Homo sapiens: one gene and its partner. The protein of the gene in region 1 purifies or fractionates together with the protein of each later gene. This does not show direct contact. Each region holds a gene or a part of one and is shown on either strand. Other genes may lie near its edges.

Evidence for each region. Proteins that work in one complex are often made in the same cells at the same time.
Region 2: the proteins of PTCHD1 (region 1) and CSRP1 purify together in Homo sapiens (co-immunoprecipitation; one study listed by IntAct). This does not show direct contact.

What each region holds. Positions count from the first base shown.
Region 1 is NC_000023.11:23,390,349-23,393,848, forward strand, and holds part of PTCHD1 (patched domain-containing protein 1), read left to right. Parts: intron 1-2,182; coding exon 2,183-3,500. UniProt on the Homo sapiens protein: Required for the development and function of the thalamic reticular nucleus (TRN), a part of the thalamus that is critical for thalamocortical transmission, generation of sleep rhythms, sensorimotor processing and attention. Can bind cholesterol in vitro.
Region 2 is NC_000001.11:201,504,324-201,508,386, reverse strand, and holds the start of CSRP1 (cysteine and glycine-rich protein 1), read left to right. Parts: upstream 1-1,263; 5' UTR 1,264-1,317; intron 1,318-1,547; exon of another isoform or gene 1,548-1,763; intron 1,764-4,063. UniProt on the Homo sapiens protein: Could play a role in neuronal development.

The DNA.
Region 1 (3,500 bases):
AAAAAACAATATTATTTCTTCAGGGACAGTGCCTCAGAAGTATTCTCTTTTTACCCTCATTGTCAAGAGAATGGTTACTTAATTAAAGGTCAGTGGGTCCATCTTGAAAATATACTAGAAACAGATTTAATCATGTTCCCTCTCCAGACTAGATGTTAATACCTAAGCATAATTAACAACAGGATGCCAGTCAATGAGTGTACTTTTTACTTCATATCTGGGGAGTTTAGGTGCCTTCAATTTAATAGGGGCCTCGGTGCTAGTTAACAAATTGACAGTCTTGACCTGACTTCTAAAAGTGGCTGTAAAACGATGCCTAGTCAATTAAGATAAATGCCAAATTCCTCTGAGGAAACAGGCCTAAATCATTACTTTGAAATGGGCATTTCAGGTATGAGGCCAGGACTTCACAATAAGGATATAAATACTAGCTTGGGCATGAGGGAAGATGTACACCTAGCTATTGTACACACAAGATAACAGTGACTCACTTTATTCAGCATTATGCTTGGCTGGAGATTTTAAATTCCTTTTTAAATACAAGACTATTGTACCACAGGGTAAAGATTTTATTATCCTCAATAATGGGATTGAATATGCCAAGGCGATGGAAGCAGGAAATTAGATCTGCTGATCCCCATTGCCAAGACAGGAGTTATCGAAATCCACAACGGGTCACTTTGGTGAGCCTTCCAATGTTGCAGTGGCCTGGAAACACAGGGACTCGAAGTAGGGAAATGTCTGGCTCCAACTACGAGAGGTGGTAGAAGTCATGCTAGATCAGGTTCCAGGCAGCAGAATGGAGTTTAGAACATGAGCATTTACTGTACCTCTGCTATTTCAGTATTGCTGAAATACTAAACCAGGAGGCGAAGGCACTAAGCAGTTACGCAGCGGGGTTACTGATCTGGCTCTTTCCCACAGATGCCACTATCAAATAGCGCGGAGAAGCTAGCAGAGTCGCTGCTGACGTATTATATCACTGCTTGATAAGTCATGTATGAATAACCAAATTGGTCAAACAGATCCCTGAAGACAAATTGCAAGTCATAAACCTTCAACCTGAATCCTAATTTTTATCAATAACCAGGAGAGTTCATATTTATCTTATTTTTTCTGTATTTTCTTCACTGAAACTTCTTCACTCCTACTTATTTTGCTTCCCTCTTTCTAAGATTTATTGCTTCCTGCCCTGATATTTGGGGAGGGAAAACAGAGGGGGCTGTGATTTAGTTTCCTGTCAAGACTCAAATGAAATACACTGCCTCTTTATCACTAAAACCCTCTAGTTGGCAAATTTTAAATGAGGTGACAGGACATTAACTCAGAACCCTCTGCCCACTATCTTCCTCTGCACTGACCCCTAGCCAGACTTGTGGGGACGGAAAGCAAAATGATGAGTGTCCAGACATCTTCTCTTCTCTGGAGCGTTCCACCAACCAAACTGCACCAATAACTCTAAGCTATTAATGGGAAAAATCCCCAAGAGACATATGCACAAGTCTAATCAGCTTTTATTCTTTTTAGAGTCAGGGTCTTGCCCTGTTGCCCAGGCTGGAGTGCAGTGGCACAATCATGGCTCACTGCAGCCTCCAACTCCGAGGCTCAAGAGATCCACCTGCCTTAGCCTCCCAAGTAGCTGGGACTACAGATATGAGCCACTATTCCTGGCTAAGTTGTTTCATTTTCTTTCTTTTTTTTTCTTTCTTTTTTCTTTCTTTCTTTCTTTTTTTTTTTTTTTTTGAGAGATGAGGTCTCGCTACATTGCCCAGGCTGGTATCAAACTCCTGGTCTTAAGTCATCTTCCTTCCTCAGTCTCCCAAGTTGCTAGGATTACAGGCATGAGCCACCATGACTGGCTCTACTCAGCTTTCTATAGGCAAAAGTTCATCTAAGTGCTGTTTGTTTGGTGGAACACTCCAAAGAAGAGAACTTTCTTAAGCCAGAGGGAATATGAAGATCTTTGCTTCTCTAGCTGCCCTTTCGTTATCCATTAACATTTACGATTCATAAAAACATGGGTCTATCTCCGCATAGGAGAAATCATTGGCATTTACATACCCGTCACCACTAGGGTTGATTACGTTTCCTTTGACCCAGTAGTCCCTCATAATCAAGTTGATTTCCCTCTTAAGAGATTAGTTCTTTAAACTTCTGCTCTGGTCTTTTTCTGCCCTCTTAGGTCATGGATTATATGGGACTTTTGAAATGTTATCCTCCTGGAGGAAAACTAGAGAAGACCAACATGTTAAAGAGAGAACTGCAGCAGTCTATGCAGACTCCATGCTCTCCTTTTCTCTCACCACTGCCATGTACCTGGTCACCTTTGGCATAGGGGCCAGCCCTTTCACGAACATTGAGGCAGCCAGGATTTTCTGCTGCAATTCCTGTATTGCAATCTTCTTCAACTACCTCTATGTACTCTCGTTTTATGGTTCCAGCCTAGTGTTCACTGGCTACATAGAAAACAATTACCAGCATAGTATCTTCTGTAGAAAAGTCCCAAAGCCTGAGGCATTGCAGGAGAAGCCGGCATGGTACAGGTTTCTCCTGACGGCCAGATTCAGTGAGGACACAGCTGAAGGCGAGGAAGCGAACACTTACGAGAGTCACCTATTGGTATGTTTCCTCAAACGCTATTACTGTGACTGGATAACCAACACCTATGTCAAGCCTTTTGTAGTTCTCTTTTACCTTATTTATATTTCCTTTGCCTTAATGGGCTATCTGCAGGTCAGTGAAGGGTCAGACCTTAGTAACATTGTAGCAACCGCGACACAAACCATTGAGTACACTACTGCCCAGCAAAAGTACTTCAGCAACTACAGTCCTGTGATTGGGTTTTACATATATGAGTCTATAGAATACTGGAACACTAGTGTCCAAGAAGATGTTCTAGAATACACCAAGGGGTTTGTGCGGATATCCTGGTTTGAGAGCTATTTAAATTACCTTCGGAAACTCAATGTATCCACTGGCTTGCCTAAGAAAAATTTCACAGACATGTTGAGGAATTCCTTTCTGAAAGCCCCTCAATTTTCACATTTTCAAGAGGACATCATCTTCTCTAAAAAATACAATGATGAGGTCGATGTAGTGGCCTCCAGAATGTTTTTGGTGGCCAAGACCATGGAAACAAACAGAGAAGAACTCTATGATCTCTTGGAAACCCTGAGGAGACTTTCTGTCACCTCCAAGGTGAAGTTCATCGTCTTCAATCCGTCCTTTGTATACATGGATCGATATGCCTCCTCTCTGGGAGCCCCCCTGCACAACTCCTGCATCAGTGCTTTGTTCCTGCTCTTCTTCTCGGCATTCCTGGTGGCAGATTCACTGATTAACGTCTGGATCACTCTCACAGTTGTGTCCGTGGAGTTTGGAGTGATAGGTTTCATGACATTATGGAAAGTAGAACTGGACTGCATTTCTGTGCTATGCTTAATTTATGGAATTAATTACACAATTGACAATTGTGCTCCAATGTTATCCACATTTGTTCT
Region 2 (4,063 bases), on another chromosome or scaffold:
TCTCGAGTAGCTTGGATTACAGGCACACACCACCACGCCTGGCTAATTTTTTTAATTTTTTTGTAGAAACAGGGTTTCACCAGGTCTCGAACTCCTGGGTTTAAGCAATCTGCCTGCCTCGGCCTCCCAAAGTGTTGGGATTACAGGCGTGAGCCACAGTGCCTGGCCAAATACTTCATTTTCTAGATCATAAGATGCTTAACTTTATTCCTGGCAAAAAGTTGATTCAGCAAACCAGGGCTTTAAGTGAAGCCGGTTGGGGCCTGAACCCTTGACACCTGCCCAGGGTGGAAGACATAGCAGCTGCATCTATGGGCCACCTGGGGTGTAGGGTGACCAGCTGGAGGCTGTGAGCTTCTCTGCTCCCTGAAATGCCTGCACGGGGCACTCAGGAAGGGCTGGGGACTGGGTGAGGAGGTGTGGACAGAATGTCCCCTGGAAACTGCCCCAGGGGCAGCTTGAGTGGCCTGAGCCTGTGTCTGTCCTACTGAAGGTTGGAGCCCCAGAGAAAAGCCTCTATGGAGGCACCCACTTTTCAGAACTGCTGCTTTTGCGGGAGAACACCTTTTTCCAGGTGTTGTCCTTAGGGTAGCAGGGAAGACTGGGAAAAACTGAGGGGCAAGAGCTGTTGGAGGGGGGAGTTACATTTATTGAGTGTCTATTACATGCCGGGTGCTGCTGAAGGTCTGCGGGTCCTACCGGATCTCCTTTTAGCCCCTCACATCCCTGTAGATTACACGCCGTTCACAGATGACCCTGAACCCAGAAGGGCTGTCTAGGCCCAGGGCCCAGCTAGTGAGTGGATGGGCAGAATCAGACCTGCCCTGGAAGGGTCTGTCTTACCCTGGCGCCCAAAATGTGTCCCTCACCCTCTGCCACCAGGACAAGTAAATTCGAGACACCCTTTCGTTAGGGGCTCAAGTTTATCATGGGTCTGACCTCTAAGGTCATATCTCCGCCTTCTCACCTGACAGACAGGAAACTCCTGAAATGCCCCTCGCACGTGCAAGACGTTTTCCGCGGTGGCGGCGACAGGGCGCACAGTGGGACCGCAGCACGAGCTCGGAGCACCCCCAGAGTCGGCGACTCCTGCCCCCGCCCCTGCCGGCCGGCCTTCCCGGGGCCTAGGAGGGCAGCACCGCCGGGCTTCGCGCCATGACATCAGCCCTGGAGTGGTGCAGTGTGCAAAGCCCACTGGTTGGCGTGGCCCGGGACACGCCTTCCGCGGAGCGGAACAAAACGGCGCGCAGGCCGGGCGCACCCAGCCGCCACTTCCGAGAGCGCCTGCCGCCCCTGCGCCGCCGAGCCAGCTGCCAGGTGAGTGCGCCCTGAGTCGCGCGGCTCTGCCCGCCGCGGAGGGGCGCCTGGGCACGCACTCAGCGCCTCCCGGTCTTGCCAGCCCCGCCGCAGCCCCGGGGCTGTCGCAGGCGGGGAACTGTGAGAAGTGACCGCAGTTAGCCCGGGCAGTGCTGCTCTTTTCTGGAGGCACTAGGTCCGTCCCCATCCCGGGCCTTCCTGGGCTTCCTGGACACAGTTGACTTCCGCGTGTGCGTGACCCAGGGCGACCCGGCTCCCCGCAACCGCCTGCAAGTCGGGCAGAACAATCGGCGATTCTGCGCGCCACTGACGCTCATTGTATGGCAGAGAGATGAGGGCATCCGTGCCACCCCCTCCCTCACCCTCCTGCTGGGGAGAAAATGCCCGCGGGCGGGGTGGGGCAAACATCTGGGCCTGACCTTGGACATCTGTGTCCCTGAGCGCAGGTGTGAGTTTTCCCTCTTGTGAAATAACTGCATGGAAACCTCTCCACTCCAAATCTTGGTGCTAGGTGGTGATGGTTACTGAAACCTGAAAGAGCCTGCAGTCAGTGTTTTGTGGCCTCAGTCCTTGAAAGCTGGGAAGTGATAAAGGGGCTGGTATTGAGCACATTTAAAGCAAATCACAATGTGTTAGCTAACAATCAGCCCTCTGAGGCAGGTATTGTATCTACTGGTACAGACTAGAGAATATTTTGCATGCTTCTGGTTCTGGTGCTGTTGTGAACTAACCAGGACCCAGGAATCGGCTGGAGCAATAGTGGGCTCAGGCTCTGCCTAGAGCCCTGGGCTCCAGCCACCCACCAGCTGCTCCCTGAGAGTGAATGAATGGGCAGGCTCTCCCCACGCTGGGATACTATCACAGTGGCACCGAGGAAATCCACTGGGCCCTGGTAGAAAGTATATCAGTATATCATGAAGAGGTGGCTTGGAGTCTTGGTGGGATTGTTTGGAAGGCAGAGTTTTGACTCTTGGATTTGCCACTTAACGCGCAGGTTTCCTTGGACAAACTATTTAACTTCTCAATGTCTCAGTTTCTTTCAGGGATGCTACTTGGGGAGCATATTACACAGAACCTCCAACACAGGAGTGATCTCTCAGTTACTGTCTTTCTTGTCCTCCCCTCATCCCTTGCCTTCCTCCCAGAAGCTAAGGAGGCTGGAGGTGCTGGTTGTCTCCCTCTGTCCTCTCAGACTGCATGTTGGGGATTTTCCCCAGGTGGGATTTGGGGATGGGTACTGAGCCTCCCCTCAACTGCTCTCACTCAACTGCTGCCTCCTGACTCTCCAGCTGGTTTCTGGCTACCTCTTTTGAGAGAGACTGTCCTCAGCCCTCAGCTGCTGGAGGGCAGCTTTTACCCATTGTTTCCTAAATCCAGCCTCCTCCTGCTCACGGTCTTCCAGTGAATGACTCTTTGCCTTGGAGAGGATATCCGGGGCGGAGGCAGTCAGACGAGGAAGGAAGTTTATCCTGCAGAGGGTGTAGTGTGGGTTAGAGGAGAGGGAGGAGAGAACTGTCTGCAAGGCCTGAGATGCCCAGGATGGAGGGTATGGGGAAGAAGAAGCAGGAGAGAAACTAAAGAGAAGGCCCATCAACTCTGCAATTGGCCTGCTAATAAAATGGGAAAAACAGGGGTGCTGTGGCCTATTTGCCTGTGGTCTGTCTTAGCACCTGCCTTCCTGGCCCAGGTGTTTGCTCTTTTAATTGCACACATGTGCATCTGCCTCTGGAGCTAGTGAGTCCTGACTGGGCCAGAGTTGCAGCCTGGGAGTGTAGTGACACTTGACTGAGTGATCAGCAAACATTTGATGAATGAGTGGGGTAGCAATGGTCTTTCAGCTGAGTTGGCCTACGGGATACTCATAAACCTTGCAAATAGTTACTAGCCAGTTTTTCCACTTGGGTAGATTGACAAGCAGGTGAGAGAAAAAAGGCGTAGGTTTTTTTTGGGCTTTTTTGTGTGTTTTTGTTTTGAGGCAGTCTTGCTCTGTCACCCAGGCTGGAGTGCAATGGCGTGACATTGGCTCACTGCAACCTCTGCCTCCTGGGTTCAAGCGATTCTCCTGCCTCAGCCTTCCAAGTAGCTGGGATTACAGGTGTCTGCCAATATGCCCAGCTAATTGTTTGTATTTTTAGTAGAGACGGCATTTCGCCATGTTGGCCAGGCTGTTTTTGAACTCCTGACCTCAGGTGATCCACCTGCCTCGGCCTCCCAAAGTGTTGGGATTACAGGCATGAGCCACTGCGCCCGGCCTGGTGTTTTTTTTTTTTTTGGAGACAGCGTCTCACTATATTGGCCAGTCTGGTCTCGAACTCCTGGCCTCAAGTGATCCCCTCCCTGTCCCCACCACCATCTCAGCCTCCCAAAGTGCTGGGATTACAGGCATGACCCACTGCGCCTAGCAACATAGTTTTTAATTCACTGTCCATCCCTGGTGTGGGAAGCAAATTGGGAAGGCTTTTCTGGCAGGTTGTTAAAGTTTTAAATATGTATGTAAGCCTAGCTTATTGTGAAACGTTGGCTTGCTAGATGAAGACACATGCGTTAAATATTTTGGGATCCAAAGAGGTGCTAGTGAGAATAAGACTTTTTCCTCCAAGTCAGCCATTTGGCATTACTCAGGGCATATTGTCAAATATCAAAAGAGATACAAACCTGAACGATAAGTGTTAGAGTTGGCCTCTCCTTAAGATAAGGATAACCAGATATCTGCACTTGCAGTGTACCAGACAGTGTGAGAAATACT